Regions from separate parts of the Homo sapiens genome. Here regions 2 and 3 are each linked to region 1. The links come from fine-mapping of genetic effects on gene expression. A gene starts in region 1. Each other region holds a variant in brackets. All regions are shown on one strand. Distances are between the middles of the regions.

Evidence for each region. PIP is the estimated chance that this variant, and not a neighbour inherited with it, causes the effect.
Region 2: its variant is the best candidate, but not a certain one, in a credible set for the expression of ST3GAL3 in fibroblasts (GTEx, PIP 0.71).
Region 3: its variant is the best candidate, but not a certain one, in a credible set for the expression of ST3GAL3 in monocytes after Pam3CSK4 (Quach 2016, PIP 0.73).

Annotation. Positions count from the first base shown.
Region 1 is chr1:43,705,891-43,708,734 of GRCh38, forward strand. It overlaps ST3GAL3 (ST3 beta-galactoside alpha-2,3-sialyltransferase 3), which reads left to right and starts at 1,646. Exons shown (of 12, transcript NM_006279.5): 1 at 1,646-1,803. KDM4A-AS1 (KDM4A antisense RNA 1) reads right to left here and starts at 1,451. Exons shown (of 5, transcript NR_033827.1): 1 at 1,169-1,451. RefSeq lists enhancers at 1,081-1,598, 1,324-1,403 and silencers at 1,534-2,033, 2,064-2,113.
Region 2 is chr1:43,882,793-43,885,292 of GRCh38, forward strand. All of the region lies in intron 5 of ST3GAL3 (ST3 beta-galactoside alpha-2,3-sialyltransferase 3), which reads left to right. Among named protein-coding and RNA genes, the nearest start is that of MIR6079, 45 kb to the left of the region's middle. The variant G/A (reference allele first, on the strand shown) is at 941.
Region 3 is chr1:43,860,644-43,863,143 of GRCh38, forward strand. The region is part of intron 5 of ST3GAL3 (ST3 beta-galactoside alpha-2,3-sialyltransferase 3); the gene reads left to right. Among named protein-coding and RNA genes, the nearest start is that of MIR6079, 23 kb to the left of the region's middle. The variant G/T (reference allele first, on the strand shown) is at 1,037.

The DNA.
Region 1 (2,844 bases):
CAAATTGTGGAACCAGTGGGAAGGATGGGTGCATTTTAGGTGCTTGAAAAGCAAGGGACTCAACCTCCAGTGGGATCCTCAGATTGCTCTCCGAGCTGTCTAGTTGGTGAGAAGCTTCCCTGGAGGAAGACCCAATCTCCTTTGGCTGGTAGATCCCTGAGGTCAAAGTGGACAAGGATGGGGAACCACAGAGCAGGGAGGGGGGCAATGAATAGGTGCAGGACTTGGGTGCCCCGGAGCTGCACCGGCTGGCCCTTAAACAGCCAGGCACTTCCTGTGGCATGGCCCTGTCCAGGTGCAGGAGAGGCTTAGGTCAGTTCAGCTGCTCTGGATGCTTCCTTGTGTCCCTGGGGGTTGAGAGGTGGTTGCTACTTGGTATCTCATTGTGGAGAAAGGGAGGTGCAGGAGGTGATCTTTTCTATGTCAGCTCCCTCCTGGGGCCCAGGGAGGGAAGTTGGCCTTTTTTTTTCTTTGCCCACACTCCACTTGGGGATTCCCAGGGGATGTAGCAAGGGAGGCTGGGCAGAACCAGGCCTTAGTGGATTGGTGAGAGAACACTAATCCATACATCTTTGGAAGAGAGGAACACTTCACCAGCCTTTTTACACAGGATCCCTACCTTTCTCGATGACCCCACTGCCTCCAGGGGTGGGCGCTGGGTTTAATCCCAGCAGTTTTTACTCAACAGCTGACCAGTTTTCCAGAAACTGCACTTTTTTTTTTTGGTCAACCTAATAACTCTTAGGAAACTGCAACTCAGGTGATCCAAATCACACAGACCGGCCCGTTCTCTCCCCTACTGGCTGCCTATGCAGTCGGGTCGACCTCAAGAGAACTGGCCCCAGCCAAAAGCGGCACCTCCCGGCCTGCCAGTCCCTTCCTGCCTTAGGCAGCTCCTCCCAGAAGCCTTTTTGTAGGGCAAACTGCCTTCCCTTTGTAAGGTAGGGCCTTTGGATCCAAGGTTGCAGTTTAAAGACCACCCCGACTTTGTTGAGGAATTAAGTTTTAAATTCCGCCCCAGGCGGATAACACCAGGGCTCAGCCGCAGGAATGAAAAAGGAGTGGGAGGGCTGCAAAGTGTACGTGGGGCTTGGAGGCCTTGTGCCACGCGCGGACTAAAAATGTTCTACGAGTCTCTTAACGCTCACCCCCGTGCCCCCTTACCCACCAGGGCCCACGGAGGTCCGAAGCTTTCGGCCTCAGTGAGCGGAATGGGTGCGCTCACGACCTGGAGGGCGAGATGAGATGTCCCTCGGCGTGAAGTGGCCGTGACTACCCTAGCACTTTGCGTTCCCCGCGCGGGCGACGAAACACGCTCTCGAGGGGAGAGAGCCGTGCGTCCTCTGGGCCGTGAAGCCAGGGGAAGAGGGTTCCTCTAGACAGCTCGATGTGCCCGGGAGAGACACCCACGCTGAACCTGCAAGCTGGGGTGCTCCACCAGCGCGAACCTCTCGCCCCGCACTCGCCGCAGCACTGCTCTCGTGGTAGGCGGGGTGGGCGGGACGGCAAATCCGCGGCTCCTGCGTCTATTGGGCTGCTCGGGGCAGCGCAGCTCCGCATTGGCCAGGCCCTCGCTCCGCCCGGCTTCCGCGAGCCCATTGGTCGCAGGCGCCCGACCGGGTCGCGGCCGCGCGCTCCGCCCGCCGCTGCGTCCCCACTATGGCGGCGCCCATGCAGCCCAGCGCGTTGTGGGCTCCCGCCGGGGTCCCCCGCGGCTGTCGCCGCCGCCTACGCCGCTGCCTCCGCCTTCCTGCCCCGCGTCGGGCCGGGCGCCACCTCCCCCCTGCCTCCCTCTCCGCTGTGGTAAGGGCCTGCCCAGTGCGCTTCGGGGCGCGATGGCTGACCGCGAATAACGGTCGCCGCTCCGCCCCGCCCCTCCCCCGCCGGCCGCGGGTCCCGGGCTGGGCGGGGCGCGGAGCCCGCGCGCTAGTGCCCGGGAAGGCGGGGTCGGGGCACGGCCCAGTCGTCCTTCGGGCTGGGGGCCCAGTACCTGGATGACCTCTCCTGGGTGGGGGCCGCCGAGCCTGGGGGAAAGGCCGGCCGGACGCAGGCCAGGAGGTCTGAGATCATCTCCGTGTGAAACCCCGCAGCGCTGCGCACCTTGGCGCAGAGCACGGACACCGTCATTCGGGCCCTGCTGTGGGAAAAGGAAAGAAAAGTCCAGGGAGCGCCTGAGCGGGAATCGGCAGCGTTTGGGTAGCGGTTGTCATTGCTTACTGCTCTAGCGGGGGCCAGAACTGGGGTCAGTTTGATCGGCAAAGTACGCCTCTCTTGCTTCCTTTCCTTCTGGCACTTTCCCCCGTTGTGTCCTCGGTGCTTTTGCTTGCAAGAGAAAATATCTTAGTGAGGAGGGCAGGTTTGGTTAGGAGAGTGTCCCATGAACATTTTGGATTCCTTTTTACAACAATGTCCATTTTTATGATTCCTCAGTAAGCCTCATTTATGTTTCCTTCACGTATGAGGAAGGAGTGAAACCTGATAACTGAATGTAATTAATTGAGGGAAGGACCAGTGAAGGCGGCTATTACCTCAGAAAGTAAAATACTCAAACTTTTCAGTGGATGTACTGTGAATTATAGATAGCTGGACATTAAGGTAGGAAAAAACTCTTATTAGGTTACTAAAAGTAAGATAGTCCCCATGACAAATTAGGTTGTTTCTAAGGCAGAATTATCTTGTAGAGATGATCACTGAAATGTTTGGTGTACTTTCAAGTCAACAGAGGATTAAAAGGAAGCTGGCACAGAAATTTATAGCCAAATGATACTTTCAAATAATCTCTTAAGGCAATACAGCTCCTCCTATGATTAGAGATTCTTAAGGATATTTTGAGATATTAAGTGG
Region 2 (2,500 bases), 180 kb after region 1:
TAGTTTGCCTGACCCTGTTCTGGGCTTGCATGGTTTGTATAGGTCACTATCTTAGAGAAAAAAAGAGACTCCCACAGCCCCCAGCGTCCAAATATGAAATCTCAGAGAAGACCATGGTGCATAGCACTTAGGTCAAGTGCCCATTCTTTTATTTATTTATTTATTTATTTATTTATTTATTTATTTAGAGACAGGCTCTCACTCTGTTGCCCAGGCTGGAGTGCAGTGGCAAGATCATAGCTCACTGCAGCCTCGACCCTTCCAGGCTCAAGCGGTCCTCCTGCCTCAGCCTCCCAAGTAACTGGGACTACAGGCGTGCACTACCATGACTGGCTAAATTTTTCAATTTTATTTTTCATAATGACAGGGTCTCAGTGTGTTGCCTAGGCTGGTCTCAAACTCCTAGGTTCAAACAGTTCTCCCACCTCAGCCTTCTAAAGTGCTGGGATTACAGGCATGAGCCACCGTGCCTGGCTAGGTGCCCATTCCTGAGCCACTTAGGAAGGGGTCTCCTGATTGGTCAGCCCAGACATGTGCCCATCCCAGTAGCAGTGGTGGGGATCAGCCGAACCAGGAGCATATGGAATGAAAAGGGGGATGCTATTGTAGAAGACAGGGGAAGAGATGTGGATATCCACTGCAACGTGCCAACAAGAAAGAGCATGAACTGAGTGCCTGAAAGTACCAGTGATGATCCAGCTTGAAATTGGTCCTGACACAGCCTCAGGCACCAGGCCAGCCCTGCAGTGCTGATGCACGCCCTGCCTGGCCTTTTCCTTCTGTGCAGTATTTGCATCTCAGCTGCTTTGTTTACACCTAGTCAGAATGCACTTGCCTGCCCATTCTTCCTCACACATTGCTCCACCTGCCTGGGTGGAACTAGAGGGCAGAGTTACAAGGGTGCGGGGTGGGGAGGGTGCCAGGCTGAAGTTCCTCTGCC[G/A]TTGATGGGGGCTACTTCCCTCCTCCAGCCTCAGCATTCTCTCTCCTTATCTTGAAGGGACAGTTACTTATGGTTCTCTTCTCTTCTGTGCCTTTGTCTTACAACTACCCTTCTGAACATTCTCCACCAGGCTTAACGTTTATTTACTTGTCTTTCAAGGCTTAGCTCAGCTTTGCCATTATCTCCTTTGAGATGTCTTTCCAGTACCCTCAAGTTGGTCAGTGACCTTTGTACCAAAATATAGCATCCTATTCCAGAATATAGAATGTGGACATATATTACATATATTTTCTTATGATTATTTCTCTACCTGTCTCTATCACTAGCTTCTTGAGGAAAGGACCAAGCCTAATTTACTTTTAGGTTCTGAGCTCGTACTCAGCACAGGACCTAGCACTGAGTAGGCAAGCAGTTGTTGGATGGGGCCGTGTTTTCCAGCTCCATCTAGTCCCATGTAAGATACGGAAGCAAGAGCTTCCTGAACAGGCTTGGAATAGTACTTGTTGGTTGGCACCTGATGTTTGTCTCTTTACCTCTGAGCTACCTCTCTCAGGACATATGATGCCCACCTGCTCTTAAACTTACCATCCTTTCTCCTTCGACTCCTGCTCTCCCATAGGACCCATCTCCCATGGAATTCATTCAAGTGGTCAGCAAGGGGAACGCAGCAAGACACATATTTGACAGGGCATTTAGAAAGTGTTCGCATTACTTGCTTAGACATACACCAGGCTCTTCCTGTGCATGGCCCTTTATGGTGGGGCTGCAGCAGCTAGATCCCAAGCAAGACCATGTAGACTCTAGAACACCTATCTCCCTACGTTATGTCTATCCCACCACTACTCAGAGAAGGTTCTAGGAAGGTGGATCTGTGGGATTTGGCTTCATCCTGTTGGATGACAGTCTCACCTTGTGGGAGCCAAGGCCTGTGGTTGAATATAACGGACTGATGTGCTGTGGTCCCTGGTCTAAGAACTCATTGCTGGGCTCTGCCTTCCCTTTGTCTCATGGGCTGCTTGCACTCGTCACAGTCATTGGGAGAAGTGGCTAAAAGGCTGGCCACCCAACCAACCAGGCACAGATGTCAAGCTGAAGCCATCTGTTACCCTAATCCAGCAAACCCATATCTGGAAGCACCTCTTTCAGTTGGGTTGGTAGGAACTAGGAGAAGACCCTACCCTAGATCTGCTGGTGCCCACACATAACTACTCCCTCACCTCACTCCTTAATAAGACCAGTCAGCTTTCTTGCCAGTCTGTGGATACAGGCTTAATATTCCAAGCCTTAGAACATGGTTTAGGTTGATGAGCCAGTGTTGAGGACATTCACCTTATACGCTGCACCTTAGCCACATTTTTGAGCATTAAGTGAGCTGGAAGATCTCTTAGGAGGGCCCCAGGTTGCCCTTCCTGGCTGGTTAGCCTGACCCTTATGCTTAATCATAGTCCTCTTTCAGTCTACAGGTCTGCGAGCAGGGCAGCCTCCTGGCTCCTGAGGTTCCATCTATGCTGTGAGAGACACAGGGGTCAGATCCACACTCAGCATGTACTCTCCCAGGGC
Region 3 (2,500 bases), 150 kb after region 1:
TTCTGCCATGCATCTGGATCCCAAGGGCCATCCTCCATGAGCAGCAGGTCTCTTCCTGTCTAGCCATGAGCCCCTTTCCCTAACCCCTGGAGTGCTAGATGCAGAAAGGGAGGGCAGTGGAGGGATGTAGGCTATGTGGGTTACAGTCACCATGTTCTCCCTAGCCAGAGGTTGATCATTTTTTCCAGCCTGTAACTGGGCCTAATTTCAGACCTTTTCTGAGGGTAGGTTCAGGAAGTAGAAAGCTTTTGAGCTGAGGCAAAAGTGGTCTTACTGTACTTAGACTGTCATCTGTTGGCACTGCGGTGAGGCTGGTCGGAGGACGAGGGGTACATCTTTACCACCTGGCCTCACCGCTGTTTCACCGATCCCTGTGGCTTGACCTTGTGTGCCTGTGCCAGGTTCACAGCATCTCCTTCATGCTTTCTCAGCAAAGATGGAATACAGCTGGGAGCTCCTCTGCCTCCGTCTGGGCAAGTGAAGAGAGCTTAGGTTTTGAAATCAGGCAAACCTGGGTTAGAATCCCAACTTTGCTACTTTGCTAGCTGTATAACCTTGGACAAGCCCTTAGTCATGTTAAACATCAGCCTCCTTATCTGCAAAATGCGAATAACAGCCCCCATCTCATGGGCATTTATGGGGATAACACTAAATAATGTCCATGACATGTGTGTCCTGGTGCCTGGCATGCAGTGAGTGCCTCGTCTGGGGTGGTAAGTGTGGTTCTGTCTTTATGCTCTGACTGCCTCAACTCTCATGGAGACCTTCCAGTAATATGTCTTGGTGTGGAGCTGTCAGGACTTGTATAGACTGCATACAAACCCAGGTGACTGGCATTTGTTGATACAGAAATACTTCCACATATTGGGAAATGTGGCTTTTGGCAACTCCAGCTACACAGGATGCAACCGATGACTCATAACTTATGCTGATGCTTCAATTAATAAATTAAATTAATAATTTAAGCTGATGCTTCCTGGTGCCGTAACCCCTACATGCCAATGCCTTACTAACCCATAGTCTTTTATGCCTTTGT[G/T]CTGTGCCTGCTAGTCCCCCAACCTGGAGTGCTTCTCCATATTCTTTGCCTTAAGAACTACTGCTTTGGCCGGGCACAGTGGCTCACGCCTGTAATCCCGGCACTTTGGGAGGCCAGGGCAGGCGGATCACCTGAAGTCAGGAGTTCGAGACCAGCCTGGTCAACATGGAGAAACCCCGTCTCTACTAAAAATACAAAATTAGCCGGGCGTGTTGGCACATGCATGTAATCCCAGCTACTTGGGAGGCTGAGGCAGGAGAATCGCTTGAACTCGGGAGGCGGAGGTTGCGGTGAGCCAAGATCACGCCATTGTACTCCTGCCTGGGCAACAAGAGCGAAAATCTGTCTTAAAAAAAAAAAAAAAAAAGAGAGACAACTACTGCTTTTACTTCAGTGAGTAACTTGAACGTTGTCTGGCATCAAGCACAGCAGTCTCTGCTGAGAGAACTGCTTGTGGCAGGCCTCTCCCCTCCAAAGGGGCCTGGACAAGGCAGGCACTCAGCTTGGCCAGCTGTCCACATGCATGTGCTGTCTGGAGTGTCTGTCCTCACATTCTCCACCTTTAAAACTCCAGCTCAGATGTCACCTCCTCTGTGAAGCTTTTCCTGCCCTGGAGCTCCCCCAGCTCTGTGTGCACCTCTATCTGTAACAGTTCTGTGTATACCACATTATAATTCCCTCCTGAGACCTTGTCTAATTTTTACCTCTATCTTACCCTCCATCACCACTTGGTGACTGACTAAACTGGGGACAGCTCCCATTTCTCTTGCCTTTATCCTATCACCACACTCCTTGCAGCTGGCTTGGGCTTGGGGAGGGAAATGGAAGCGGCGGGTCCTACTGACCTAGTTGGGTGTTCTGCCATGTCCAGGCCCACTGTGCAGCTGGGCCCAGCACTCTGGGCTTCCTTCCCAGGACCAACACCAGCAGCATCAACAGTGGGCAGAGCCAGGCGCAGTGGCTCACACTTGTAATCCCAACACTTTGGGAGGCTGAGGCGGGAGGATCACTTGAGCCCAGGAGTTTGAAACCAGCCTGGGAAACATAGCGAGACTCTGTCTCTACCAAAAAAAAAAAAAAAAAAAAATTTAATTAGCATAATGGTGTGCACTTGTAGCCCTAGCTATTCAGGAGGCTGAGGCAGGAGGATCGCTTGAGCCAGGGAGGTTGAGGCTACAATGAGCTGTGATCATGCTACTGCACTCCAGCCTGGGTGACCGTGTGAGACCCAGTTTCAAAAAAACAGTGGACAGAGTCTAAAGTGGCTCTAAGGACATATTAAATTCTGGATTATTCTTCCTTCAAAACATTGAGTTTGACGGTCTCCCTCAGTTGACTCAAATAACTGGATATTGCATATCTGTCTGTTCACTCATGTAATACATTTTTATCAAGTGCTGGGCACTGTGTGGGCACTGGGGAAATGGTTTTAAAAAACGCAGGCATGGTCCCAGCTCACTGTCT